3 separate regions of the Homo sapiens genome follow, and all the other regions are linked to region 1. The links come from fine-mapping of genetic effects on gene expression. A gene starts in region 1. Each other region holds a variant in brackets. All regions are shown on one strand. Distances are between the middles of the regions. Region 1 holds the start of NLRP3 (NLR family pyrin domain containing 3). Region 2 holds the start of LOC124904575 (a long non-coding RNA gene). Region 3 holds the start of LOC107985375 (a long non-coding RNA gene).

Region 1 (10,087 bases):
TTAAAGGAGTTAGAGAAAGCAAACAGTTTGCCTCCACCTTCTCATAGCACTACCGTGAGAGGGGAAAAGAGAAAAAACCAAGACAATACAAGAAAAAAAAATTTTTTTTTGAAACAGGGTCTTGCTCTTTAGCCCAGGCTGGAGTGCCGTGGTGCAATCTCAGCTCACTGCAACCTCCACTCCCCATGTTCAAGCAATTCTCCTACCTCAGCCTCCTGAGTAGCTGGGATTACAGGTGCCCACCACCACACCCGGCTAATTTTTTTTGTATTTTTAGTAGAGATGGGGTTTTGCCATGTTGGCCAGGCTGGTGTTGAACTCCTGACCTCAGGTGATCCACCCACCTCAGCCTCACAAAGTGCTGGAATTACAGGCATGAGCCACCATGCCCGGCCATGATTTAAAAAAAAAAAAATCATACTAACTTCTGTGCATCAAAGGACACAGTTAACCAAATGAAAAGACAACCCACAGAATAGGAGAAAATATTTGTAAATCATATATCTGATATGGGGTTAATATCTAGAATACATAAAGAACTCCTACAAGGCAACAACAAAAGCCAAACCTGGTCTGAAAATGAGAAAAGAACTTGAACAGAACTTTCTCTGAAGAAGCTCTATAAATGGCCAACAAGCAGTGAAAATGTGCTCAGCATCACTTATCATTAGGGAAACGGAAATCAAAACTACAGTGAGATACCACCTCACACTCATTAGAATGGCTACTATAAAAAAGAAAAAATAAATAAAAATAACGTGTTCTTAGGATATGGAGAAATTGGAACCCTTGTGTGCTGTTGGTGGGAAATGGTGCAGATGGTATCTAAAACAGTAGAGCAGTTCTTCAAAATATTTAACAGAATTACCGTATGATTCAGAAATTTCACTTCTGAGTATATACCCCAGAGAATTCAAAGCAGGGTCTTGAAGAGATATTTGTGCACCAACACTCATAACAGCATTAACAATAACAAAAAGGTAGAAGTAATCCAGGTGTTCATCAACAGATAACTAAACAAAATTTGGTATATGGTACCATGGAGTATTTATACAGTCTTTTTTAAAGGAAGGGAATTCCGACACATGCTACAACATAGTTGAACCCGGAGGACATTATGCTGAGTGAAATAAACTACTCATAAAGGAAAAAATGCTGTATGTTTCCACTTATATGAGGTACCCAGAGTAGTAAGATTCACAGAGATGGCAAATAGAATGGTGGTTACCAGGGCTGGGAGAATGAGGCAATGAGGAGTTATCATTCAATGGGTGAGGAGTTTCAGTTTTGCAAGATGAAAACAGTTCTGGAGACTGGTTGCACAATGTGAGTGTACCTAACACTACTGAACTGTACATTTAAAAATTATTACGGCCGGGCGCGGTGGCTCACACCTGTAATTCCAGCACTTTGCGAGGCCGAGGCGGGTGGATCACCTGAGGTCGGGAGTTTGAGACCAACCTGACCAACATGGAGAAACCCCATCTCTACTAAAAATACAAAATTAGCCGGGCGTGGAGGTGCAATGCCTGTAATCCCAGCTACTTGGGAGGCTGAGGCAGGAAAATCGCTTGAACCCGGGAGGTGGAGGTTGCAGTGAGCCAAGATCTCACCATTGCACTCCAGCCTGGGCAACAAGAGCAACTCCGTCTCAAAAAAAAATATATATATATATATATATAAAGATGGAAAATTGTACACTATGTGCACTTGGCCACAATTTTTTTTAAAAGTCTTCCTTCCACTCACCCCACTTCGGCTCATCTCTTTTTGCTTTCTCATAAAGGTCTCTCCTGTTGATCGCAGCGAAGATCCACACGGCCATGGCCCACGCCTTCTCCTCCCCATTGAAGTCGATCATTAGCGTGGCTAGATCCACATGGTCTGCCTTCTCTGTCTGACCCCTCGGGAGGGGGATGCAGCCCTTCTGGGGAGGATAGTCCTCTAAGTGCATCTTAAATTTCTTCAAGTCCACATCCTCCAGGTCCTCCAGGTACCTGGCCAGCTTGCAGCGGGTGCTTGCCATCTTCATCTGCAGCTGTTTTCAGGGTCCTTAGGCTTCGGTCCACACTAAGATACCAGGCAGTGAACACGGCACACGGATGAGTCTTTTTTAAAGTCTCCACTTTGAGAGATATAAATTATCAAAAACTCAGCAAACAGAAAGAAAAAAATGTCACATGACTGTAACAAGTCAAAATCTTTAATTTTGAAAAGTTAGCCAAGGCCGGGCACAGTGGCTCACGCCTGTAATCCCAGCACTTTGAGAGGCCAAGGCAGGCAGATCACCTGAGCTGAGGAATTCAAGACCAGCCTGGCCAACATGGCAAAACTGTGTCTCTACTAAAAGTACAAAAATGAGCCGGGTGTGGTGGCGGGCGCCTGTAATCCCAGCTACTCAGGAAGTTGAGGTAGGAGAATTGATTGAACCCGGGAAGTGGAGGCTGCAGTGAGCCAAGATCACGCCACTGCACTCCAGCCTAGGCGACACAGCAAGACTCCATCTCAAAAAAAAAAAAGTTAGCCAAATGCTTACCAGAAAGTTCTCCTGTTGGCTCGATCCAGGAGTGTGTCCTGAGCCATGGAAGAAAGGTTTCCCTATGGAGGGAAAAATATGCAAACAAATCCATAAACAGGATTGTATTACAGTTTACGGTGAACAACCACTTCACGATGCCATCTTGACCCATCAGCAAGAAAATTTTTGTCCCGTTGATTACGGGGCTATGACATTGGACAAACTCTTCACTATTCCTCAACTTCAGTTTCCTCATCTACAAAATGAGAAAGCAGAAGAGAATGTTTTCAGTTCCTCCAAACTGAAGGCTCTGGCTCTTTGCTTCTGTTTTTGTGAGGGAAGAGGGATGAGAGACAATAGAAGGAGAAGGCCAGGAGGTGAGTAAGTGTGTTGATAACAGAACAGGACGTGGCTAGGGAGAGAGGAGAGAGAACATAAAAGCTTGCAGAGGAGGGGACAGTCTTTGACTGCACTTCTATCAACCAGTGGATTGAAGTGAGATGAAGCTGGGAGTGCATAATGGAGAATAATAAAAACATACATCCCTGTAATCCCAGCACTTTGGGAGGCCGAGGTGGGCGGATCACCTGAGGTCAGGAGTTGGAGACCAGGCTCACCAAACAACAGGGAGAAATCCCGTCTCTACTAAAAATACAAAAATTAACCGGGCATGGTACCAGGCACCTGTAATCCCAGCTACTCGGGAGGCTGAGGCAGGAGAATCGCTTGAACCCAGGAGGCGGAGGTTGCGATGAGCCAAGATCACACCACTGCACTCCAGCCTGGGCAATAAGAGCAAAACTCCATCTCAAAAAATAAAATAGAATAAAATAAAATAAATAAAAACATACATCCTTTAATGTCTCCTTGCAAAATTCGCAATTGTTATCATTATAATTCACATTAATTTAGAGCTTTCCACAGGCTAGGCACTCACTGATGTTTTTCCCCATCTAACCTGCACAGAGCTCTATGAGGTGCACCTATTCCTAGCCCCATTTTATAGATGCATAAACTGAGTCTTAGGGGGACTAGGAAGCCTGCCGAGGGGTTTAGAACCAGGAAGGAACAGAGCCAGGATTTTGACCAGAGATATGAGACCATGTCTTCCATCACTTGTTTCAGTCAGACAAAGACAAAGACAACAAAATAGATGACTAAAAGACACACTTCCCCAGCATTTATCACAGGTGTATCACTGCAGCATTCACCAACATAGTCTTCCCAACTAGACTGTGAGTTCCACAAAAACTAGCAATCACCTGCTGTATCTTTAGATCTTCCATATCTCCTAGAGTCCGGATGGATGAACAAGTTGGCTTTGTTTGGAATTGTTCCCTCCTTGATCCCTTGATTATACTCTATTTGGCAAAGCACCTCAACCTAAAGCCATAAATAACACTCAAGGGAGGCAGAGAGCCTGGAAAACGGTGGAGCTCTCCAAATTGGAATTTCTGTGACTGCAGTTCAATGTCAAGATGCCTCAGACTCACTCATCTCTCCCGTCCCATCTCCATTCCTGCCTATCTACTCCTCGCCTCCTGAGCCCTGCAAACCCAGCCCTGTGCATCCTGAGGTGACTGCTCTCCAGACAGCCCTATTAGCTCCGCATACCCTCCCAGCTCCTGCCCATCCTGAGGTGACTGCTCTCCAGACAGCCCTATTAGCTCCGCATACCCTCCCAGCTCCTGCCCCATCAGTCCTTCCATCTGCATCAGGATTCTGCCTTTCTTCTGTGCTCCTTCCACCCTAACACCAGCACAAAAATCTGCTGCCCTTTGGTCTTTAAGGAGGTTTGTTTCCTTCTGTATATCCCATCCATCTTCTCCCCTGGGAGGGATACTGGGCAAATCTGCTGAAGTCGTGGGTGTAAACTATGGTTGCTGCCGCTGTCCTCCCCGCTTCCCCCCGCCACATACACACACACGAACTTGCACACGTAGAGCCCAAATAATGATAAAAGAACATTCCAGAAATGTTGTTGAAGCACAACCTTGGAGACGCCAGAAGAAATTCCTAGTGCATTAACCAGGACAAGTTCTGCCCTCTGAACACAATCTCCCCCACTGCTCTCCCGGTCCTGTCGCCCACACTGCCCCGCGGAGCTGGACTTACCCAGATGCCAGCCTCAGGAACAGCTAGAGAGGAAATGCAATGAATTTATAGCAGTCGCAGCCCCAGAAGGGGCAGGAAGGATGTGGTCTCCACTTACATCAGAGCAGAGGCAGAGAGACTAATGGTTAATCACATAGCTGGATTTTCCAAATGGGATCAACAGTGTTGTCAAAACCGTGTCTCGGTTCCATACTGGGGTTCACCTTGCTCTCCTCTGAGGCACCCCACAGAAGCAGGGTGGGAGGCCAGTATGAGATGGGGCTGGGGGTCAAATCGGCAGTGCTAAATGGATGTTGCCTCTGACACTGCCCGCTGCAACGGCTCCACTGAGAGTGAGGGAAGTGAAACTAAGGACATGCCATGCGAGTGAGTAAAGAATCCAGAGCATGACCTGACCCAGCCTTCAAACTCCAGAGTCCATGCCCTGTCCTCTCACAGCAAGATGGCTGGAAGGCAGTACAGGTTCTCTCCGACATGTTCTACTTTTAAAGCACAAATTTTACTCCCTGACTCATTGACTCACCTGTTCCACTAACACTCACGGAATGGCTGGTATGTGGCAGGCATGCACACAAAGCCTCAGCTTGAGTAGCTTGAGGAGAGACACACACAGACCTACTCTGCAGCTCATGAGACGGCCGCAGGACCACAGACCGGCAAAGGCACAAGTTCAACAGAGCTTGGTGGGTGAGAGGCACTCGCTCAGCCTCTGGGTGAGTGAAAAGGACGAGCACCCAGTTCAGTGGAGGGATGTCAGCAAATGACTGGGTCTGTCTGTGCCTCATACCTGTAAAAGGGTGACAATAATTGCCTGCTACTTCTTTAGATCTTCCAAATCTCCTAGACTCAGGATGGATGAACAAGTGGTTTTGCTTGGAATTGCCCCCTCCTTGATCCCTTCATTATACTGCATTTGACCAAGCACTACATCAACCCAAATAACGGTACCTATCCTAGAAGGCTGTCAGAAAACACTGAGTGAATGGCTAAACGTGAGGCCTTTAAAACAGAGCCTGGCACAGAGAAGCTAGAATAAGCAGTTGGTTCCGATGACTACCACCTTTCTACAGAACTGCAGAGAGAATGCTCTACAACATGAGAGAGGCATCTAGTCCTGCTTAGGGGCATGACAGCAGACCTGAGTCTCCATGAACCAGGTGAAAGGTGTCATTCGGGGCTGGAGCTGAGGCAGGAGCAGCAAAAACTTCAGGTGCTGAAGCTAGAGAGAAAGCAGACCAAATATGCTCCAAAAGAAAGGAGCTCAGCCTGGGTGCAGTGGCTCATGCCTGTAATCCCAGCACTTTGAGAGGCCAAGGCAGGCAGATCACAAGGTCAGGAGTTTGAGACCAGCCTGGCCAACATGACGAAACCCCATCTCTACTAAAAATATAAAAAAAAATAGCTGGGTGTGGTGGCGGGCACCTGTAATCCCAGCTACTCAGGAAGCTGAGGCAAGAGAATCACTTGAACCTGGGAGGTGGAGGCTGCAGTGAGCTGAGATTGTGCCACTGCACTCCAGCCTGGGTGACAAGAGCAAGACTCCATTTCAAAAAAAAAAAAAGGAGCTCATTGGCTGAACCTGGGATCTTTTTGTTTTTGTTTGTTTAGTCAAGTTAATTTAGGTATAATTCAGCCGGGCGCAGTGGCTCACGCCTGTAATCCCAGCTCTCAGGGAGGCAAGAGGCGGGAGGATAGCTTGAGCCCAGGAGTTCGAGACCTGCCTGGGCAATATAGTGAGACCCCATTCTCCAGAAAAAGGAAAAAAAAAAGACAAATTTAGGTATAATTCATATGCAGTAAAAATCCATGCCTTTATAAAAACAGACCCATAGACCAGTGGAACAGAAATAAACTCAAGTATATGCAGTCAACTAATTCTTTGACAAGGTCACCAAGAAGACACAATGGAGAAAGGACAATCTCTTCAATAAAGATGTTGGCTATAGAAGTGTGAAAAAAAAATCAAGAAAAATATAAGATTTTGAAAAATTAAGCTTTTGGTGAAACTGGATTTCCACACGCAAAAGAATAAAACTTGGCACACACAAAAACCAACTCAAAATGGATTAAAGATCTAAACATAAGATCTAAAACTGTAAAACTCCTAGAAGAAAATAGAGAAGAAGCCAGGCATGGTGGCTCATGCCTGTAATCCCAGCACTCTGGGAGGCTGAGGCAGGAGGATCACCTGAGGCCAGAAGTTCACAGTCAGCCTGGGCAACATAGTGAGACTTTGTGTCTACAAAATTAAAAAAAAAAAAATTAGCCAGGCATGGTGCTGTGCACCTGTAGCCCAGCTACTCAGGAGGCCGAGGCAAGAAGATCACTTGAGCCCAGGAATTTGAGGTTACAGTGAGCTATAATGACACTACTGCATTCCAGCCTGGGTAACAGAATGAGACCCAATCTCTAAACAGATAAAAAACTAAATATAAAAAATAGAAAACAGAGGAGAAAACTTCTTGATATTAGCCTTGGCATGGATATTTTTAATGTCTCAACAAAAGCAAAGGAACAAAAGTAAAGATAAATAAGTGGGAATACATCAAAGTAAAAAGCTCCTGTATAGCAAAAGAAACAATCAACAGAGTGAAAAGGTAGCCAACAAATTGGAAGAAAATAGTTTTAAGCCATATATCAGATAAGTAGTTAATATGCAAAATATGTAAGGAATTCACACAACTCAAAGCATAAAACAAATAATCTGATTTTTAAAATGAAGAAAGGAACTGAATAGACATTTCTCTAAAAAAGAAACAAAAATGGTCAACATGTATACAAAAAAGTGCTCAACATCACTAATCATCAGGGAAATGCAAACCAAACCCACAATGAGGTACCACCTCAAACCTGTTAGGATGGCTATTAGCAAAATGACAAGAGACAAACATTGGCTAGGGCGTGAAGAACAGGGAACCCTTGCACATTGCTGCTGGGAATGCAGATTGGTGCAGCCATTGCAGAAAACAATATGGAGGTTCCTAAAGAAATTAAAAATAGAACTACCGTATGACCCAGCAATCCTTCTTCTGAGTGTGTATCCAAAGGAAATAAAATCACCACCTCACAAAGACATCTGTGCACTCATGTTCATAGCAGCATTATTCACCATGGTCCAGATAGGCAAACAACCCAAGTGTCTATTGACAGATGAATAAATAAAGAGTTTGGGGCATATATACACAATACAATCTTAGTTAGTATTAAAAATTGAGACTCTGCTATTTGCCACAACATAGATGAACCCGGTGGACTTTACACAAAGCATAATAAGCCAGGCACAGAAAGACAAACACTACATGATCTCACTCATATGTGGAACCTTAAAAAAAAAAAAAAAAAAAGTTAGGCCAGGAGTGGTGCCTCACACCTGTAATCCCAGCACTTTGGGAGGCTGAGGTGAGTGGATCACTTGAGCCCAAGAGCTTGAGACCAGCCTGGGCAAGATAGTGAGGCTTCACCTCTACCAAAAAAATGAAAAAAAGAAAAGAAAGGAGGGAGGGAGGGAAGGAAGCCAGGTGCAGTGGTGTGCACATGTCACCCCAGCTACTTGAGAGGCTGGGAGGCTGAGGTGGGAGGATTGCTTGAGTCTGGGAGGTCGAGGCTGCAGTGAGCCGAGATCACACCACTGCACTCCAGCCTGAGTGACAGACCGAGATCCTGTCTCAAAAAAAAATAGTTGAATATATAGAAACAGAGAGTTACCGGGGTAGAGGAAATAAAATGACGGTCAAAGGGTACGAAATTTCGGTTATGTAGGATAAATAAGCCGAGAGATCTAACAAACAGTGTGGGAACGATAGTTAAAAATATTATAAACCTGAAATTTGCTAAGAGAGATTTTAGATGTTTTTACCACCCACAAGAAAGATTATTATGTGAGATGGTGGCTATGTTAACTCATGTTAATTTGCTTGACTGCAGCAATCATTTCACTATGTATATCAAACTGCCATGTTATACACCTGAAATATGTACAATAAAATAAATATTCGCACCTTTTTCATGCACAGGCCTGTGAGTGCTCACAAGCATATAGCTACCCACCACCACAGCCCACACAGAGCACCTGCATCAGCTGCACATGCTCCCTGTGCAGCCTCTGTCCCCACCCACTGTGCTGCCACATAGTCAGCCTCTGTCCCCACCCGCAGCCCCACTTCTTCCACCTGCTAAAGCATTACCTTTTCCAGAGCATCACATAAACAGTGTGCAGCCTTTGGTGAGCGAGTCCGCTCACTTCATATGATGCCTGTGAGATTCAGATCAGTAGCTTATTCCTTTTTACTGCAGTTAAGTATTTCATGGGTTGGATAGGCCACAATTTGGTTTTCTATTCCCTAGGCAAAGGACAGTTGGGCTGTTTCCGTTTTTGGCAATCGTCAATTATGCCACTGTCACTCATGCAGCTGGCGAACTGGCTGCAATTGTGTAAGGACATCAGTCACTTGGGGCAGTGGGAAGTTCACGAGAAGCAGATGAGGTTTCCAGCCTTCGCTGCTTCACTCTCCGCTGAATGCTGCGACCACTCCTGTGGTCCGACTCCTTGCCTGCGACCCTCACCTCAGCTTTCCTGTGAGGCTCAAATAAAACAAGACCTGATCTATAATACATTATTGTAGAGAGGAAAAAATAAATAAAATAATACCTGACAGCAAAATGTAAACTGTACAGTAGTATTCAAATTGTAGGTCAGGCCAGTTTCAGTGGCTCACACCTGTAATCCCAACGCTTTGGGAGGTTTGAGGCAGGAGGATCACTTGAAGCCAGGAGGCCAAGAGCAGCCTGGGCAACATAGTGAGACCCCATCTCCACAAAAAATTAAAAAATAGACGGATGTGGTGGTGCATGCCTGTAGTACCAGCTACTCAGGACGCTGAGGTGGGAGGATCGCTTGAGCCCAGGAAATTGAGGCTGCAGTGAGCTAGGACTGTGCCACTGCACTCCAGCCTGGGTGACAGAGTGAGACCCTATATTAAAAAAATGCAGATTATGAATCTTGAAAAGATACTCTAATCATACATAAAAACTTGTCAATGAAAGACCACCATACTCTGTGTGTTATTATGCATTCTGAAAAAATTTTGTTTCAGATTTGGGAATATCAAAATCAACACAAATAAATAAGTCAACTCACAAAAGTAAAACGCGGTGATTTTCCATACATCATTCATGCAAAAAAAAATAATAATAATTTACTCTTGTACATTTAAGAAAAATAATTGCTTCCATTAAATACCCAAAGCTCACTTAAGTGGACTGGAACTCACAGCACTGAATTCCAAACTAAAATTGCATGAATGATTTCAAGTTGAAATCACCTGTGGTCCCCAGCTACTGGGGAGGCTGAGGTGGGAGGATCTTCTGAACCCAGGAAGTCAAGGCTTGCAGTGAACTGAGATTGTGTCACTGCACTTCAGCCTGGGTGACAGAGCCAAATCCTGTCTCCAAATA
Region 2 (10,087 bases), 31 kb before region 1:
AGTGCCAGAAAATGCCGCAACATGAAAAGTGACAACCATAGCTTCTTAGGGGACTCCCCTAAAGCCTTCATCCTTCTGGGTGTGTCTGACAGGCCGTGGCTGGAACTCCCTCTCTTTGTGGTCCTCCTGCTGTCCTATGTGCTGGCCATGTTGGGGAACGTCGCCATCATCCTGGCATCCCGGGTGGATCCTCAACTCCACAGCCCCATGTACATCTTCCTCAGTCACCTGTCCTTCCTGGACCTCTGCTACACCACCACGACAGTCCCTCAGATGCTGGTCAACATGGGCAGTTCCCAGAAGACCATCAGCTATGGAGGCTGCACTGTGCAATATGCAGTCTTCCACTGGCTGGGATGCACGGAGTGCATCGTCCTGGCCGCCATGGCCCTGGACCGCTACGTGGCCATCTGCAAGCCCCTGCACTATGCCGTTCTCATGCACCGTGCTCTCTGTCAGCAGCTCGTGGCTCTGGCCTGGCTCAGTGGCTTCGGCAACTCCTTCGTGCAGGTGGTCCTGACGGTGCAATTGCCATTCTGCGGGCGGCAGGTGCTGAACAACTTTTTCTGTGAGGTGCCGGCCGTGATCAAGCTGTCGTGTGCTGACACCGCTGTGAATGACACCATACTGGCTGTGCTGGTGGCCTTCTTCGTGTTGGTGCCCCTGGCTCTCATCCTTCTCTCCTATGGCTTTATTGCCCGGGCAGTGCTCAGGATCCAGTCCTCCAAGGGACGACACAAGGCCTTTGGGACGTGTTCCTCCCACCTGATGATCGTCTCCCTCTTCTACCTACCTGCGATTTACATGTATCTGCAGCCCCCTTCCAGCTACTCCCAAGAGCAGGGCAAATTTATTTCTCTCTTCTATTCCATAATCACCCCCACTCTCAATCCCTTCACCTACACCCTGAGAAATAAAGATATGAAGGGGGCTCTGAGGAGACTTCTGGCCAGGATCTGGAGGCTCTGTGGATGATGAGGACATGAGATGTAGCATCTCCATCAATTAAAGAACACAGCACAAGTCTATTGTGCACTCAGAGCATCTTTCACTTAAGGAGTTAATACCCAGAGAGCTCAAAAACCCTGTCTTCAAACATCTCACTTCCTGTTATAATGCCCCAAATCCCATAGCGACAAAGTTCATTTTAAACGTATAATTCTAAGAGGCCATATATTTTTAAGCATTGTTTAAATAGACTTCAATAAGTATGTGTGGAATTATTTCACTTCCAATTTCCTGATTCTTTTCTCTTTTCCTCTTCCTATATTTCTTTTATTCTCTCCCCATTTGTCTCTTTTCTATTACTCCTAAGTATACACAAGATGAAGCTGAAATACAATCTTATTTTACTTACAATGAATAAGTGTTTTTCTCCATATACTTAAATCTCCACAAATTTTACACGACTTTTTCAGACAATTCCAGGAATGAAGTAGATTGCTATCTTCTTCCTGTGATTTTGATTTTTTTTTCTCTGTAGTTCACATTTTCTTCTATAGAAAGTTTTTCCATGAAATGTAAACTAGTACAAACACTAGTACAACCACGATGGAAAACATTGTGGATCCTTAAAGAACAAAAAGTAGATCTACCATTTGATCCAGCAATCCCACTACGGGGCATCTACCCAGAGGAAAATAAGTCATTATACGAAAAAGATACTTGCTCATGCGTGTTTATAGCAGCACAATTTGCAATTGGAAAAATATGGAACCATCTGGGCGCAGTGGCTCATGCCTGTAATCCCAGCACTTTGGGAGGCCGAGGCGGGTGAATCACAAGGTCAGGAGTTCAAGACCAGCCTGGCCAAGATGGTGAAACCCCATCTCTACTAAAAATACAAAAATTAGCTGGGCATGGTGGCACACGCCTGTAATCCCAGCTACTCAGGAGGCTGAGGCAGAGAATTGCTTGAACCCGGGAGGCGGAGGTTGCAGTGAGCCGAGATCGCGCCTCTGCACTCCAGACTGGGCGACAGAGCAAGACTCCATCTCAAAAAAAAAAGAAAAAGAAAATGTGAGATATATACCATGGAAAAATACTATTCAGCCATAAAAAGGAATGAAATAATGGCATTCTCAGCAACCTGGCCAGTTTTAATGTCCTAATGCCCAAAGGTTCTCTTTCTCTCTTTCAAGCTCAGCTATGTGTTTCTGATTACATTATTTATATAGGTTATCAAAGTGTTTGTAGCAGGAAGGCAGTCGGTAATAGTTCACCAAGATGCAGAAACCCAGTCTCCAGTTGGTGCTGCTCAGAAGTGCTAACAAGACAGAGTTTGCAACAGAATGTAAATCTCATACTGTTTCCCTTATAAAAATAGTCTTCAGGGTTTTTTTTAAATGTCAGCTCATCTAAAAGGTATGTTTAATAATGTGATTGTTTTACATTCTTATACAAGCTCCTTATATCGACAGTTCATAGACTACACTTTGAGTAGCAAAGTGTGGCTACTTTGATGGCTAATTGTACAGAGGAAATAGTATTTCCATCCTGAGCAATTCCATGCGGTTTAAGAGTTGTCCATGTGTAGAGAAGCAATTAGTAAATATTTCCTTATAACTTAATGCTCTGTGAAGTATAATAGATGAACTGTTCCTCGGATGGGATAAATCCAAAATAAGCTGTTATCAACTGAAAGCAAGATGCATCTTCTACATAATACTTCTAGTTAGGAGCGCAGGCTCTGATACTCTCAAACCTTTCCCTCCACGATTTTCAATCTCCTATCCTATCAAAGATGAAATTCCACTCATTACAGTTAGAGTGAGGTAACGTTTTAAAAATTATCTACAATGGAATCATTTGCCAAAGTGACTTTTAAAATGCACCAAACAATTTAATTTATCTTTAGTGGTTTAGAGAAA[T/A]AATTTGAAAAATTTCTAGGTACTCTTTTTTAAAATTAAGAAAAGGAATCAATTTAATTAAATACCAAAAAGTTTTACATATTCCTGAATTTTCAACCAGCTACAAAAAGCATGGATTTTTCTTATTAGAAAACAAAACTGTTACAAAAAATTTAAATAAATAAATAGCTGCCATAAAATTTCAACATAATATATAGTCAACTAGTTCTGTGTTATGGTCAGTTAATAGAAAGATAGCGGGAATGATGATATGAGCAAAAGTAAACAGAACAAAGAAGAAAAAAGATAGGAAAAAGAAAGTTAGACAGAGAAGAGAAAAATAAAGAAAGTGCTTTATTGAATGAGCTAATTACATGAGGTCACCAAGAGGAACATCCTCTAACTGAGGCGCTGTGATGACAACAACACCCGATGCTGTCATTGTCCTGGTGTCTTCCTCACCCTGGCGTAAAGGAGATGCCCAAGCTCTGCACAGGAAGGCATCGTCGGCAAGCTCTCTTCTCCGACACTCCACCGGAAGGATCACAGAGCTGTGGTCTTGGCCTGGATGGATCGCAGCTCTCTCCACCTGAGGGCCCCCAGCTGGAGGGACCGGAGAACACTGGCGTCTGGCAGCCCCGTTTCCACTCCTACCAAGAAGGCTCAAAGACGACGGTCAGCTCAGGCTTTTCTTCTTGAAGTGTTTCTAACGCACTTTTTGTCTCATAATTGAAATACATTTCAGACAACCTGTAAAAGCAAATAGAAAGCCTGGGTTGCACTCTTCAGATAACTCTGTCAGAGTCGTTAACCTTAAAAGTCTCATCTCTTCATTTCCCTAAACTCCACACACTTCTAAAATGTAAAAAAAAAAAAAAAAAAAAAAGAGGGACCACAACTCCCAGAGTGCTCCGCGTCCTCGCCGCCGTCGCCGCCGCCGAGACCAAGATGGCCGCGAGACTCCGCACCTTCTTCAAGAATGCCTGGGCCAAGGAGCCGGTGCTCGTCGTGTCCTTCGTCACTGGGAGCCTCAGACCCCCAGGACCCCAGCCTGGAGTGGCTGAAGAAACTGTGAGCACCTCCAATGACAGAGGAGGCCCCTCCCACGGCTCCCAATAAAAATGTGGGGAAAAAAAAAAAAAAGCTCTAAGTGCCCAATGTGGTTCCTGTTATATTTTTAACTATCTAGTTGGGAAAATGTTAAGCATACATAAAAGTATAGAAAATAGTATAATGAACCCCCTGTGTCCATTACCCAAGTTCGACAATTAAACAGGTCATGTCAACTTGTTTCTTCTATTGCCCACCCACTCCTCCCACCCATGGATTATTTTAAATACTGCATTTAATGCATCTATCAATAATTCACTTTGTGACACTAAAATATAATTACAATGTCACTATCACACCAAAATCGTTTAACAATAATTTCTTAGTATCACTGTATGTCCAGTCAGCATTTACGCTTCCTCAACTGTCTTGTAAATTTTTTTACCTTATGTTCATTTAGTCACTAACCTGATCAATTCTACACATTGCATTTGCCCAGGATGCCTCTCACATCTTCGATGTAAGTTCTTCCTCCTCTTTAATAAAGTTTCCCTTGCAACTTAACTAATAAATCCACCCATTTGTCCTGCACCATTTATAACCATCTCAATTTGGTGGTGTTATATACTGAATGTTTGTCTTCCTTAACAATTCCCATGATGAAGCCCGAACCCCTAATGTACGGTACTTAAAGGTGAGGCCCTTGGGAAGTAGTTAGAGTTAGATGAAGTTGTGAGGGTGGGGCCCTCAGTATGGGGTGAGTGCCCTTACAGGAGAGATATCAGAGAGTTTGTTCTTTCTCCCCTGTCTTCTCTCCCTTGCCTCCCCTCCCTCCATGCAATCACATAACAAGAAGGTAGCCATCTGCAAATCAGGAAGAGGACTCTCGCCAGCAACCAAATTCATCAGAGACTTGATTTTGGACTTTCTAGCCTCCAGTATTGTGAGATAATAAATCTGTGTTTGAGTCACACAGTCTAAAGCAGCTTGTTATCGCAGCCTGAGAAAACGGGTTGATTGCATTCATGGATTCTTCAATCTATTTTGAGCCTGTCCCTCAGCCTGGGTCCAGAATGTCCCTCAGGGCTAGGTCAGTGATGCTACATGTAGCAGTGTCCCCAGCTTTGACCTGACCAATCCTTTGTTTGTTCCCCCATCTCTCTTAGCTCTGGGAATATTGGCTTGTCCTGCAGCAAATGTGCTCCATTATGTTGGCACAAGGATGCAAGGCTGATTCAAACTTGTATTTATTCAAACCTGCATTCCAACAAGTTCTCAGCCTTGAGATCATTAATATGGACAGAAGTCCCTGGACTAATGGAATTTATATTTTGGGAGCAGAGATAGATAATAAATAAACAAGAAAATGACATAGCACATAAGATGTGCTACACTGCAGAGGAGAATGAGAAGAGAAGAAAAAGTGCTTCTATTTTCAGTAGAATAGTCAAAGACAGCCTCGCAGAGAAGACCTTTAAGCAGAGAATTTAGGAAGGTACAGGGAATAATGCAGGTGGATACTGAAGGGGAGAGAGTTCTAGGCCAGAAGAAAAGCAAGTGCAAAAATCCAGAGATGACAGTGTTCTTGCAAAACAGCAAGGAGATCACTGTACTGGGGCAGAATAAGCAAGGGTTGGGAGAAGCGGAATCTTCGGAAGCAGGAGAGGCTGGATTATGTGGGGCATGGAAGCCACCATGAGTTTGTTGCTCTGATTATGAAAGTGATAAGAAGACGATGTTGACAAGAGTGATATGATGCGAGTTACGTTTTAGCTGAATCCCTTGTCTGCTAAAATCAGAATAACAGATGCAGGGTGACCTGTCAGAATGCCACCATGACAATCCAGACACCAGGTGATGGTGGCTTGAGCCAAGGAAGAAGCCGTGAAGCTGGCCTGAAGTGGTCAGGGAGTGGCCAAGCTGGGAAGGCAGAGCTCACAGGATGTGCTGACACATTGGACATGATTATAAGGAAAAAGAGACAGTGACGACAGAACCAGAAATGTTTTGGCCCGAGCAACTTGGAGGAAGTGACCATCGACTGAAATGGGGAAGAATCAGGTTTCGGGTAGAAGAGAGTAGCAAGGGTGTGGATCTAGATGTGACGTTTGAGAGGTTTATTAAACCTTCAAGAAGAAAGATCAGCCAAGCACGGAGACACAGAATTTATGGACATATAATCTGGAGGCCACAGCACACATATCATGAAGCCAGAAGACCAGATAATTTAAATGAGGGAGAAAGTGTAGGGAAGAAAAATTAGCCCAGCGACTAAGCTCTGAGGATTCAACACATAAGGGTCAGGATGATGAAGAAGAGGCCAGAAAGGAGACTGAGTAGAAGGATCTGATGAAATAGGAGAAAACCCAGGAGAGCATGTTGGCCTTAAAGCCAAGCAGTGAAAACGTCTTCAGGGAAAAGTGCAATCATCACGGCTGACAGAACCGTGGGACTCGCCAGGAAGCTCTTGCTAGAGAGGAGACGACTACCTCAGTAGTATCACAGAGGTGGGCTGGCAATATCCTGACACACTGTCGAATTTCGTGTAATTTCCCATCTTGCTATTCCTGGAGCACTCTTTTCCCATTTAGAAATCCTCAGAAACCGCCAGGCACGGAGGCTCACACCTGTAATCCCAGCACTTGGGGAGGCCGAGGCAGGCAGATCACGAGGTCAGGAGATGGAGACCATCCTGGCTAACACAGTGAAACCCCAACTCTACTAAAAATACAAAAAATTAGCCGGGTGTGGTGGCAGGCGCCTGTGGTCCCAGCTACTTGGGAGGCCGAGGCAGGAGAATGGCGTGAACCCGGGAGGCGGAGCTTGCAGTGAGCCGAGATCATGCCACTGCACTCCAGCCTGGGCGACAGAGCAAGACTCTGTCTCAAGGAAAAAAAAAATAAATCCTCAGAAACAAAACAACAAGATCCCCACTATGTAAAGACCCTTCCAATTTGGATGACCCATAGACGAGTTCTACGAAGTTCGGTTCCTTGTGTAGAACAGAATCCTCCTTGGCCATGATCGCATGAGGGCTTGTGTTTCTTTGGGGAATGTGGGTGAAATCCAGCTTAGCCTTGGTGATTCTAACCATCTCAGTGAAGTGGAATGTGTAGTTTAACCCCATATTCTCTATTTTAAAATATCCACCACAACTGACCCAGGCCCAACCTAATCTTGAGTGGCTGCAAATGAAGCGAGAGCCATCCTGGATTTTGATAACAGTCAACGTTTCCTGAGAACTCAGAGTCCCACCACGGGCATCTCTGCAGAGCACACTCACCCCAGGTTCTGCAGGAGGCAGCTCTGCTGTTTCAGCACTTCACAGAACATCATGACCCCCAGGTCGCCCAGGTCATTGTTGCCCAGGCTCAGCTTTCGCAGGCTCTGGCTGGAGGTCAGAAGTGTGGAAAGATCCCAGCAGCAGTGTGACGTGAGGTTGCAGTTGTCTAATCTGCAAAAAGGGGGTGATTTAAAGAAAATGTCCCCTTAACCATCCCCCTAGCTCCCCAAGATTTTAGCATCTTAGCCTGTCTTGTTTCAGGTGGAAAAAAAAAAAGCACAGGAGCACAGGACTAACTAGCTTCAAGCAGCCTTGTATGCTGGTAATTATTCTTCTCTCTCTTTTTCAAATCCACTGCATTGCACAGATCAAATTAGTAACAGTGGTTTGTTCATTGATTTACCAAATTCTGTGCCTTTCCCTACATTTCCATAAAATGTAAGTGTCATACTGCCCTCCTTGTTTTGTGGTACAGAAAACTGTGATGGTAAGGACTCAAGTTCCTACATCTATATCATCTGGAAGGACTCCTCCCAGTCCCATGATCCTGTAACAAGGCAAACACTAAGAAGACACCTCACTTCTAAGATACAGATTATCTTGTGGCCACTCTGCCTAAACGTCCCTCCACCCTTGGCCACCATGTGTTCTCATTGCTGTAATAAACCAAAGGACTTACTCCAACACCTGAAGCTTGCAGTCGGGGTGCAAGAGTCCCTCACAGAGTAGTTTGATCCCCTTGTCTCCGAGAGTGTTGCCTCGCAGGTAAAGGTGCGTGAGATTCTGATTAGTGCTGAGTACCGAGGACAAAGCTGAACAACAGACTGACGTAAGGCCAGAATTCACCAACCTGTAGAAGGACAGGGAGAAGAGTCCTCAGTACCCAGCTGTTCCCCAACATTGTGCAGCTGCTTTGACTCAGTGCCTCGTCCTCTCTCAGCAGCTGCAGCCTTCAGCTCAGAGAGCAGGAGCCAGCATCTCAGATATGATCTGGGGAGAGCAAGACCTGCTGTCTCTGGCTGTCACAGGAGACACAAATGATGTCTCAGCAGATGCTTTGCTGTATGAGTCCGACAGAAAGAGCCAAGGCAAACTGAGCCAGTTACCCCATACTCCTCCTCCTCCTCACACAGCTTTCCTCCGGCCAGGAGTGCTCCTCAGCACCACTTCTTCCAGAAACACATCCCAGTGGTTATCCTCAACTAATAATCCCCGTAACACTGCAGACACCCACACTGCAGGGGCCTTTTTTTTTTTTTTTAAGAGAGACAGGAAAAAAAAATCCTCCTCATGGGAAGTCGGTGCTGATTTAAACATCAAAGACAACAGGTGAACGTCCATTGTGACCTTCTAAGCTGTAGCTAGGGCTGTGACAGGAACACGGCGGGGCCCTTAGCAATTGCCACCTCCCGCCTTCCTGCGCCCCCAAATGCCCCTTTCACATCTTTCTCGCTGCAGCCCTCAACCACGTTGGAGAGGTGGGAGGATCGCTTGAGTCCAGGAAGTCGAGGCTGCAGTGAGCCATGATTGCGCTGCCACACTCTAGCCTGGGTGACAGAGTGAGACCCTGCCTAAATAAATAAATAAATAAGGCCAGGTGCAGTGGCTTATGCCTGTAATCCCAGCACTTTGGGAGGTCCAGCACTTTGGGAGGGTGGATCACGAGGTCAGGAGTTCAAAACCAGCCTGGCCAACATGGTGAAAGCCCATCTCTACTAAAAATATAAAAATTAGTTAGGGTGGTGGTGGGCACCTGTAATCCCAGCTACTTGGGAGGCTGAGGCAGGAGAATTGCTTGAACCTGGGAGGCAGAGGTTGCAGTGAGCCGAGATTGCCACTGCACTTCAACCTGGGCAACAAAGTGAGACTCTGTCTCAAAAATAAATAAATAAATAGAAAAAGCCAGGCTCTTGCTCAGTCACCCAGGCCAAGTGCACAGCTCACTGCAGTCTTAAACTCCTGGGCTCAGACAATCCACCCACCTTGGCCTCCCAAAGTGCTGGGATTACAGGCATGAGCCACTGTGCCTGACCCAGAGACCAGTCTTATTTGATTATTATATCAACCTGGCAAGGAAGGAGTGCAGCTAAAACTATTACATACATTTTACATATTAGAAATCTAAGGCTTATAAAAATTACATGTTTCTCTCAAGGCCACAGAGCAGGTGTGTGGTGGGGAGGGATCCAGACCTGGACTTTCCACCTTTTAGTCTCATCTTCTCCCCACTGCCCTTTCTGTCCACCTCTCTCTTCCTTCTGCACAGCAAAAGGCCTTTTAGAGCATAAAACCCCAAAAATGCATCAATCTCGATGGAATTAAGAGTTTTGATGTACTATTCTTGAGTCAAATTAAGCCCATTCTATCACCCAGGAAGAGCATAAGAGCTCTAAAATCACTGGTGGCGTAATTCCTAGGAGCACAGATGCTTCTATTCCATGAAGCCAGGAATAGCGCAGGTGATTGCCTCCTTCCTGCCAGAGTCCTTGGCAATGGCATGTTTTTTAAGCTCTTTGGTGTCTACGAGGCAGGAAAAATAGAAATACAGAAAAAGTGTATTCAGACAGTAAAGCATGAACAGATGACCAGCAGGAAAAAGTGATTATCCATCCACTGGTTTCTATCTTCCCAATTAAGGAAGAGTCAAACTGAAAAGACACAGTAAGTAAGACTAATAGGCAAATGAAGCCCAAGAGAGACAGACAAAAACAAAGCAAGTTTTGAGTGGCTTCTACTAAGCTCTCATCCCCGGTAAGAATTCTATCAGAGGGTTGTTGTTAATTAACATGCAGAAGGGATTAGTAGCATTCCTGGCAAAGGCCAGGGACATTCTAGTAGAATGGGGATGGTCTTCAAAGAGGAAAAGAGAAAATATTTTTTAAATTATGTAATTAAAGTTATGCAG
Region 3 (10,087 bases), 25 kb after region 1:
TTGAGACCAGCCTGGCCAACATGGTGAAACCCCGCCTCTACTGAAAAATACAAAAATTAGCTGGGCGTGGTAGCACACGCCCGTAGTCCCAGCTACTCAGGAGGCCGAGGCAGGAGAATGGCTTGAACCCAGGAGGCAGAGGTTGCAGTGAGCTGAGATCACGCCACTGCACTCCAGCCTGGCGACAGAGCAAGTTTCCATCTCAAAAAAATAAATAAATAAATAAAATGAAATAAAATGAAATAAAATAAAATAAAATAAAATAAAATAAAATAAAATAAAATAAAATAAAATAAAATGGAGATGAGGTCTCCACACGTTGCCCAGGCTGGTCTTGAACTCCTGGGCTCAACAACCTTCAGGCCTCGGCCTGCCAAAGTGCTGGAATTACAGGCATGAGCCACAGCACCTGGCTGACATATAAGCTTTTGAAAAGCTAGAAGCAAATTCCCCGAAGTGGGGACAATTCTAGTTGTGTAGTAAAACAATAGATTAGACTTTTCTTTTTTCTAAATTTCTGTATTTTCGCATTTAAGTTATTGTGTCTTCTTTTTGCTTCATTATTTCAAATAACACATCATACAATATTACATATGATAGTGATTTAAGATTAGGGAATTTATTTATGTGGTGATACATATTTTATGACCCCATAATATGTGTGAATTGAAAGCCAGAACCATGACTATTGTGAAGCTAACAGACCTGCTGTGGTCTAAATATTTGTGTCCCCTCTAAATTCATGTTAAAATCTAGTCACCAAGGTGATGATATTTGGAGGTGGGAACTTTGGAAGGTGATTGGGTCATAAGTGTGCAGCCTTCATAAATGGCGTTAGTGCCTATAAAAGAGACCTCCAAGAGCTGCCTTGCCCCTTCCATTAGGGTATAGAAACACAGCAAGAAAACACCATCTGTGAATTAAGAAATGGGTTCCCACCAGGCACTGAGTCTATTTGTGCCTTGATCTTGAACTTCCAGCCTCCACAACTGTGGGAAATCCATTTCTATTGTTTATCAGCACCCCCAGTTCATGGTATTTTATTAGAGTAGCCTGAATGGACGAGATGGCCTTCATCGGGTCTTTTCACCATTATGGGCCCAACCGCAGCTCAATATCATTAGAGGAGAAAAAACACTGACCTCCTGCAGGCCATGCAAGAAGGCAAATGGAAATATTGGTAATATTCATTTATAGTGGACTGACTGTGCCCCACTAAAATTCATGTGTTGAAATCCCCAGTGTGATGGTATTAGGAGGTGAGAACTTTGGGAAGTAATTAGCTCACAAGAATGGAGCCCTCTTGAATGGTATTAGTGTCCTTATAGGAAGAGGCCAGAGAGCTCTCTTGCCTCTTTCTGCCATGTGAGGATACAACAAAAAGTTGGCAGTCTGCAACTTGGAAGACAGCCCTCACCAGAGCCTGACCATGCTGGAGCTCTGATCTTGGTTTTCCAGCCTCCAGAACTGTGACAAATAAATTTCTGTTGTTGATAAGCTACCCAGTCTGTGGACCTTGTTATAGCAGCCCAAATGGACTGAGACACCATTTAAAGAACAAAAGAGCAAAACTCCCAAATGGAAAGCTTAATATGTGATTAAGCATTAAAAAATGCAATTCTTATTAGTAACCTGAGAGGAAAGCAAGCTAGATATTCAATATGCTTTAAGTTAGATATTCAATATGCTTTAATTTTTTTGAAATGGTAAATGACAAACAAAAAGTATCATCTACATATTGCAAAAGGGGCTGACACTATCTTAAAATATGTGAAAGTTAAGCTTGAGTTGTACAATTTGGGGGCAAATGTGACTGGGCACTGGGTGTTAGGTGAAGTGATCTATGGCCAACCAGCTGGCTTCTGACAGCAGGGGTGTTAGGGAGGAACCCCTGCCTTAGATTGCCCCAGGTTCTCAGCTCTTGTTCAGCATTTTCTTTCCAGAAAATAGGTCCTTTTATTCCATGTAAAAATTGCAAAGGTTTAAATTCACATAAATTATAAATGGATCCATCAGCACCATCTCTGAGGACAGATGTAGTCAAAAAGAAAGACGGTGTTTTCTGTTTGGAAGAAGAATCACGGCAGATGCAGAGCAGAGCTTAGACAGTGGAGCATGCAGAGGAGCTCTCTTGGCTTCCATCATCTTGCTTCTGGTCAGCCTTGATGAGAGGTAGAGTCCTGGAGCTGGAGGTGGATGTACAGGGAACAATCATAAAAGAGGAGGGAAGGGAGGATGCTTGCCTATTCCCAGGATCAAAAGTAGACATGTAGGCCAGGCATGGTGGCTCATACCTGTAATCCCAACACCCCGAGAGGCTGAGGCAGGAAGATCACTTGAGGCCAGGAGTTTGAGACCAGTCTGGGCAACATAACAACAGTCTGTCTCTACAAAAAATATATATATATTTAAAAAACAAATTAGCTGGGCATGGTGGCATGGACTTGTAGTCCCAAGCTACACAGGAGGCTGAGGCAGAAGGATCTCTTGAGCCCAGGAGTTCAAGGTTACAGTGAGCCATGATTGTGCCACTGCACTCCAGCCTGGGTAACAGTGTGAGACCCTGTCTCAAAAAAAAAAAGCAAGCATCTGCTCCTTTAAGATGCAGTAGACAGACCAGGCCGTGGTGACTCATGACTGTAATCCCAGCACTTTGAGAGGCTGAGGCAGGAGGATAACTTGAAGCCAAGAGTTCAAGACCAGCCTGGGCAATATAGTGGGACCTCTGTTTCTCCAAAAAAAAAAAAAAAATGCAGTAGATAAGAAGTCTCAGACTAGATGAATGCTCACTCAGTCTAAAGGCATTCACCAAGACACCATTGTGGGTGAGGCACAGAGAAGCTTTGTGTCCTCAGAAGGCCTCTCACACTCCGATACTTAAACTCACCTTCACACAGGTTCTTTCTACCATACAGCTGTAAGCACAGGTCCATGTCCAGGCCATGCTGCCTACAGTGTAGCATGTCTAAGATTCTTTTTCATAGTCCTGTAACTATTTTGTTCAAAGTACAATATTGTTGCAAGACATTTCCAAGTGTGATAGAATGTTAAAAAGGAAAAAAAAGTCCAGACTTTAATGTTACAGTGAACTGTGACAAAGATTCCCTCCTCTACCAAACTTCAGTCAGACTCCTCGGAATCTTCTCCTCAACCAGGCCTTGTCCTTGGCCCCCATCCTCTCATCAACCTGCCTAGCCCAGTTTTAGCAAGAATCCTGCTAAGTCATTCCCCACATTGATATCTGACTATTCTCATATCTGATTGGGTTGCTCATCCCTCACAATCCCCCAGGTGATATCTGATCACCCTGGCCTGTCTTCAGCAAGAATCCTGTTAGATCACTTTAGCAAGAATATCCCTACCCTTGTTAAGGAAAAATTATTCAATGGTACTTATTAAAGGATGGGAGGGCTGACTTTGTTCTGGACCCTTGTGATAAGTGTAGGTAACATGGCAGTGGGATCTAGCGGTGGGAGAGAGGTTGGGTCGGACTCCAAATACAACAAGGAAGAGGGGGTATTTATAACCAAAGAGAAGGGTGGGGGTCAGTAGATAAAAAATTACGAAGAGGAAATATCAGGGGTAAGGGGGTTCTGGTTGAACTGGCCTAACATACTCTTGCTGAAGGCAGGCCGGGGTAATTGAACATTGCCTGGGGGATAATGAAAAATAAGGAACCCAATCTGCCATTGAGGAGTCAGATACCAAGGATGAGGATATTCTTGTTAAACTGACTTAGCAGGATTCTTGTTAAAGCTGGATTTTATAAGGAAATGCACAGATGGGTCTAGGAGAAGGTTCAGGAGCCTGACTAAAGTTCTGTTAGGCCAGGTTCAGGAGTCTGATTAAAGTCTAACAGAATCTTTTTCACCTTTACTATATCCTCTTAGTAATCTCTGTCCACTGACTCCCAACCTGTTCCCTAGCCATAAATCCCAACGTTCCCTTGTTGCATTCAGGGTTGAGTCCATTCTCTCTGCTCTATTACAATACCCCTGCTGGAATCGTGCTAAATAAAGTCTCTGTTACCATTTCAAAAAGCATCGGAATATTTTTTTGAGAAGGGTCTCACTCTGCCACCCAGGCTGGAATGCAGTCGTGATTGATTATGGTTCACAGCCTCGACCTCCCCAGGTTCAAGCGATCTTCCAACCTCAACCTCCCAGGCTGCTGGGACTACAAGTGCACATCACAACCCACCTGGCTAATATTTGTACTTTTTGTAGAGACAGGGTTTTGCCATATTGCCCCAGGCTGGTCTTGAACTCCTTGGCTCAAGTGACATACCCGCCTTGGCCTCCCAAAGTGCTAGGATTACAGGTGTGAACCACTGCACCTGGACAGAGTATTTTTTCCTTTAATGATGACTGTGGCTGGGTGTGGTGGCTAATGCTTGTAATTCTAGTGCTTGTGGGAGGCTGAGAAGGGAGGATTGTTTGAGGCCAGGAGTTTGCGATTAGGCTGGCCACACCACACATAGCAAGACCGTATCTCTACAAAAACATGTTTAAAAAATTAGCCAAGCATGGTAGTGTGCACCTGTAGTCCCAGCTACTCAGGAGGCTGAGACAGAAGGATCTCTTGAGCCCAGGAGTTCGAGGCTGCAGTAAGCTATAATTGTGCCACTGCCCTCCAGGCTGGGTAACAGAACGAGACCCCCAATTCAAATAATAATAATAAAACAATGGCTGTCACTCAAGCTCCTGATGGTATAACATCAAAAGTCCCAGAGTGAAATCATTTTGCAAAAAAAAAAAAAACCCCAAACTTCCAAATTTTTCATTAGTCAAGTATTTTCATCACTGTCTTTTTTGTGCTCACAGAAATAAGCATATCATTGCTCAGTGTAC[T/C]GGAATCTTGAGTTTTCTGTAAAAGGAAGTGTATTCGATGTAAACATTTAAAACACACCAGAGTTTCGTAACTCTGCTTTGTCATTTCTTTTTTTTTTTTTTTAATATACTGAGCTTCTAAAGATAAAAATAAGAAAGAAAACGGAAGTAGCCTGAAACTGCTGTTGCAATGTTTTTCCTAACCACACTGAGCTCGACTCTTTTCAGGAGCCCGACTCCAGCTGCTGCTGCAGCACATCTTGAGCTGGGGCATCCCCGCGTCTTAGACCTGACCTCGCTCTCTCCCCCTGGGACTGTATATGTAGCCCAGAGGCCTGGCCTTGGCTCACCTGCTTAACTGAGAGGAGAGTCCCTCATTTTGCTCCACTGGAGGTTCCTGCTACTCTCTTCTGCCCTCTGCTGGTCCTGGGTGTTAGTGACAATCATCCCTCTGCCCTCCCCAGGTTAAGAAGAGGAAGGAGGGAGAGCGGAGGACTGCGGAGCAGCACCAGCGGATGGAGAAAGCTAATTGCTGTAAAAAAGAGTACATGATTGGCGTCCCCGAAGTTTCCAGGACAGAAGTGAAGGGTGGGATATTGGGGAAAGACGGGGCTTGCTTGCATGAAACCTAATATAAAGAGGTGCTGGTATAAATGGAATGTCCGTGTCTCTGCCAAATTCATATGTTGAAATCTTAACCCCCCAGATGAGGGTATTAAGAGATGAGGCTTTGGAGAGGTGATTAGGTCATGTGAGTGGAGCCCCCTGAAGGGAGAATTAGTGCCCTTATAAAAGGGGCCACAGAGCAATCCCTTGTCCATTCCACCATGTGAGATTATAGCTAAGGAACATATATGGCCATCAGTAGCACAGAAAACGGGTCCTCACCAGACACCAGACCAGCCCAGACACCAGACCTGCTGGTGTCTTGATCTTGGAGTTCCCAGCCTTTAGAGCTGTGAGAAATAGATTTCTGTTGGGCCAGGTGTAGTACCTCACTCCTGTAATCCCAAATCTTTGGGAGGGCAAGGCAGGAGAATCACTTGAGGCCAGAAGTTTGAGACCAGTCTGGCAAAATAGAGAGACCTCATCTCTACAAAAAATTAAAAGTTAGCTGGGTATGGTGGCTTGTGCTTGGAGTCCCAGCTCCTTGGGAGGCTGAGGCAGGAGGACTACTTCAGCCCAGGAGTTTGAGGTTGTGGTGAGCTATGATCAATCATATTACAGTCCAACCTGGGTGTCAGAATGAGACCCTGTCTCAAAAAACAAACAAAAAAAAATCCTGTTGTTTATAAGCCACCCAGTCCATGGCAGTTTGTTACGCACTGAAACACAGGAGGTGGGGAAGAATGAGTCGAGGAGGACACAGGTGGGAGTGAGTCTTGCATACAGTTGTTACTCTGAACTTACGTAAGAATTCTCGTTTTCTCGTTTGGTTGTAGAATCAGTCAGTCTTGAAATCGAGATTCTATAGGTCAGCAGGAGCAACTCCCTTTCCTGATTGTGACCAGGAAGGGAAGAAGGGAAGGCTTCGCTCCCACACTCCTGCTCATCAGCTTCCCTGGACATTAAGGCCCAGCAATCCTGCCTGGGAGGCTGCGAGAACGAGACTGTTTTGTTGGGAAGTTGGACCAAAGACTCCTCATGGGCCCATCCAGCTCTGAACATCTAGAAATCCAGGGACATGGACAGAGAGTTCTTCCCCACCCTTTCACAGGGTTGTGACATGGCCTCCCAGTGTGCTCTCAGGTTCTTCTGTCTCTTGAGGTCAAGGGCCCTGGCAAAACCCTTTACTTGGACAGAGCAACTGTGGAAGTTAATCTTATGTGTCAACTTGACTGGGAAGAGATGTCAAGAGAAGTGGTAAAACATTATTATTAGGTGTGTCTGTAAGGGTGAGTCTGGAAGAGGTTAGCGTTTCTATCAGACTAGGTAAGGAAGATCCGCCCTCACCCACGCGGGCAGGCATCGTTCCATCCGTTGAGGAGCCGAACAGAAGAGTGGAGGAAAGGCACATTCTCTCGGAGCTGGGACATTCACCTTCTCCTGTCCTCGGACATCAGTGCTCCTGCTTCTGAAACCACCTTTGCAAAATTAATGACTGAAACAGCAAAAGAGATCTAACTTCACTGACTCCTTCTTGCTTCTAACCTCCAAGCTGCCCTTGTTCATTCCTGGGCATAAGCTGAACTAACTTTGGGAGAAACTTAGTTTATAGTTTACCTTTTTTTTTTTTTTTTTTGAGGCAGAGTCTCACTCTGTCGCCCAGGCTGGAGTGCAGTGGCGTGATCTCGGCTCACTGCAACCTCCACCTCCTGGGTTCCCACCATTCTCCTGCCTCAGCCTCCCGAGTAGCTGGGACTACAGGTGCCCAACAGCACACCCAGCTAATTTTTTGTATTTTTAGTAGAGACAGGGTTTCACCGTGTTAGCCAGGATGTTCTCGATCTCCTGACGTCGTGATCCACCCACCTCGGCCTCCCAAAGTGCTGGGATTACAGGCGTGAGCCACTGTGCCCGGCCTATAGTTTAAAACAAAGACCATAGTTTAAAACAAAGCCCTTTCCCAAAGCAGACCTCCTTCTTGCCTGGGGACTAGGTTGTCTTTGTAGGATTAACATTAGCCACAAGATTAGAAATCATAGTTTAAGAGACATGCAGCTGGAGGCTACAAGATTCTGACCCTCCCTAAACTGCTCCTAAGATCAGTGGCTTGAGATGTTTTGCAGACCTTGCACTTAATGGATCAGCTGGCATCATGCAGATTAATTAAGTGGCTCACCTGATCTTGTGGCCCCCACCCAGGAACTGACTCAGTGCAAGAGGACAGCTTCAATTCCCTATGATTTAATCTCTGACCAATCAGCACTCCTGGCTCACTGGCTTCCTCACACCCACCAAGCTGTCCTTAAAAACTCTGCTGCCCAAATGTTTGGGGAGACTGATTTGAGTAACAACGAAACTCCGTTCCCCTGCACAGCTGGCTCTGCGTGAATTACACTTTCTCCACTGCAATTCCTCTATCTTGCTAAATCGGCTCTATCCAGGCACTGGGCAAGGTGAGCCCATTGGGCAGTTACACTTCTCCAGCCTTCAAGCTCAGACTCAATTCCCCGACTGGCTTTCCTGGCTCTCTAGCCTGCGGAGAGCAGGTGGTGGAGTTTCTCAGTTTCCAGAATCGTGTGAGCTGATTCCCATAATCAATCTCATATACTATGTGTATCCTATGGATTCTGTTTCTCTGAAGAACCCCCCAAAATATAGCACACAATCCTAATTTTTCCTACCACTCACTCCCCAGCAACATTTTAATTTGGCCAAGTTCTCTGTTGCTTATAGCAGAACACAAAAGCACCAAACAGCAAAACAGGGAAGCAGGAATCTCTCTCCTTTGAGACCCAGAGCGCCACGCTGTGGAACAATTAGCTGTGTGGGGGCCCTCCCCTCCCTTCACCCTCACAAGTCAGACTCGCTTATAAACCCACCAGCCAAGTTAGGCCATCTTCACCTGTCCAGATCTGGAGATACTAGAAATCATCTTATCTCATATCCTTCCTTTAGGTAAAGGATACACTGAGACCCAGAGAGGCCGGCTTGCTGTGGGTTTAAAACACTCTTACTTCTAGGGCAGGGGTTCTCAAATGATTTGGTTCAAGGCCCCATTACACTCTTGAAAATGAGGACTCCAGGGGGCTTTCATGTGGGGATTATATCTGTTGATATTTACTGTATCAGAAGCCAAAACAGAAAAATTGTTAAAAAGTCTGAGAAGAGTAGCACTGACTTACAGTTTGCACATCTTACTCATGTCTGACTCAGCAGAAAGCAGCTGGAGTCTCTAATACTTCTGCATCTTTAGTCTACTGCAATATCACAGAGCATTAGCCTGTTGAAAATTCCAGTCTAAGCCGGGCACAGTGGCTCATGCCTGTAGTCCCAGCACTTTGGAGGGCTGCGGTGGGAAGATCGCTTGAGCTCAGGAGTTTGAACCAGCCTCAGCAACATAAAGAGACCCTGTTTCTACAAAAACTTAAAAATTAGTTGGGCGTGGTGATGCACACCTGTGGTTCCAGCAACTCAGGAGGCTGAGATGGGAGGGTTGCTTGAGGCTGGGAAGTTGAGGCTGCAGAGAGCCATGATCATGCCATGGAACTTCAGTCTGGGGAGTGAAGTGAGACCCTGTCAAAAAAAAGAAAGAGAAGAAGGGAAGAAGGGGAAAAGTAAATTCTAGTCTACACTTGTGAGAGTGAAAACAGTGTCATAGTATGATTATGAAAATAGTTTTGACCTTGCAGATCCCCTGAAAGATCTCAGGAGTTCCATGGGGATCCCCCGACCACACAGTGAGAACTATAGGTATAGAATAAGCAAGAGCATGTCTGGAGTCCTTGTCTCCTAAATCTCCATCTGCTACCTTTATTTCTTATTTTATTTCTTGCTTATTTTTATTTACTTGTTTATTTGTCTTGAGATGGAGTCTTGCTCTGTCACCAGGCTGGAGTGCAGTGGTGCCATCTCGGCTCACTGCAACCTCCACCTCCCGGGTTCAAGCAATTCTTGTGCCTCAGCCTCCAGAGTAGCTGGGATTACAGGTGTGCGCCACCACACCTGGCTAATTTTTGTATTTTTAGTAGAGACAGGGTTTCACCATGTTAGCTAGGCTGGTCTTAAACTCCTGACCTCAAATGATCCACCCACGTCAGCCTCCCAAAGTGCTGGGATTACAGGTGTGGGCCATCACGCCTGGCCTATTTTTTATTTTTATATACTAATTGTGGAGAATCCCTGGGTTTGTTTTTTTCCATCTTTCTTTTTTAATTTTTTTTGAGATGGGTCTTGCTACATTGCCCAGGCTAGACTCAAATGCCTGGGCTCAAGCAATCCTGCTGCCTCAGCCTCCTGAGTAGCTTCAATTACAGGTACATGCCAACACACTTGGCTCCATCTGCTGCCTTCCTATCTTACGGCAGTATTCTACATTACGCTGTCTCTTACCTGTATTGAAATCATGTATCCCATACACGTATACAATTACAATTTGTCAATTAAAAATTATATTAATTTTGAAAAACAATATGTAAAAGTTAACCCCGCAAAAATCAAATTTTTTTAGGACTTTAAAATAAAATCTGGAGAATAGCTAACATATTCTGTCAGGGCTGTCAGACTAAAAAGAGAAGTGCATGAGTCACTTCAAAACAATGGTTACTTTTCTCTTCAGAGAAATTGAACTAGAATTATAAAAGACTCATTCAAAT

Evidence for each region.
Region 2: its variant is fine-mapped to the expression of NLRP3 in whole blood (TOPMed, PIP above 0.99).
Region 3: its variant is fine-mapped to the expression of NLRP3 in whole blood (TOPMed, PIP 0.93).

The regions. Positions count from the first base shown.
Region 1 is chr1:247,410,740-247,420,826 of GRCh38, reverse strand. NLRP3 (NLR family pyrin domain containing 3) reads right to left here and starts at 4,654. Exons shown (of 10, transcript NM_001243133.2): 1 at 4,634-4,654; 2 at 1,750-2,774. The coding sequence starts at 2,026.
Region 2 is chr1:247,441,917-247,452,003 of GRCh38, reverse strand. It overlaps NLRP3 (NLR family pyrin domain containing 3), which reads right to left. Exons shown (of 10, transcript NM_001243133.2): 8 at 7,862-8,032; 9 at 7,183-7,353; 10 at 3,187-3,599. The coding sequence ends at 3,500. OR2B11 (olfactory receptor family 2 subfamily B member 11) reads left to right here. Exons shown (of 2, transcript NM_001004492.2): 2 at 1-2,822. The coding sequence starts at 22. The coding sequence ends at 975. LOC124904575 (a long non-coding RNA gene) reads left to right here and starts at 3,777. Exons shown (of 2, transcript XR_007067005.1): 1 at 3,777-3,920. The variant T/A (reference allele first, on the strand shown) is at 2,871.
Region 3 is chr1:247,385,441-247,395,527 of GRCh38, reverse strand. It overlaps LOC107985375 (a long non-coding RNA gene), which reads right to left and starts at 5,752. Exons shown (of 2, transcript XR_001738574.1): 1 at 5,180-5,752; 2 at 1,666-2,186. RefSeq lists a silencer at 2,405-2,687. The variant T/C (reference allele first, on the strand shown) is at 4,851.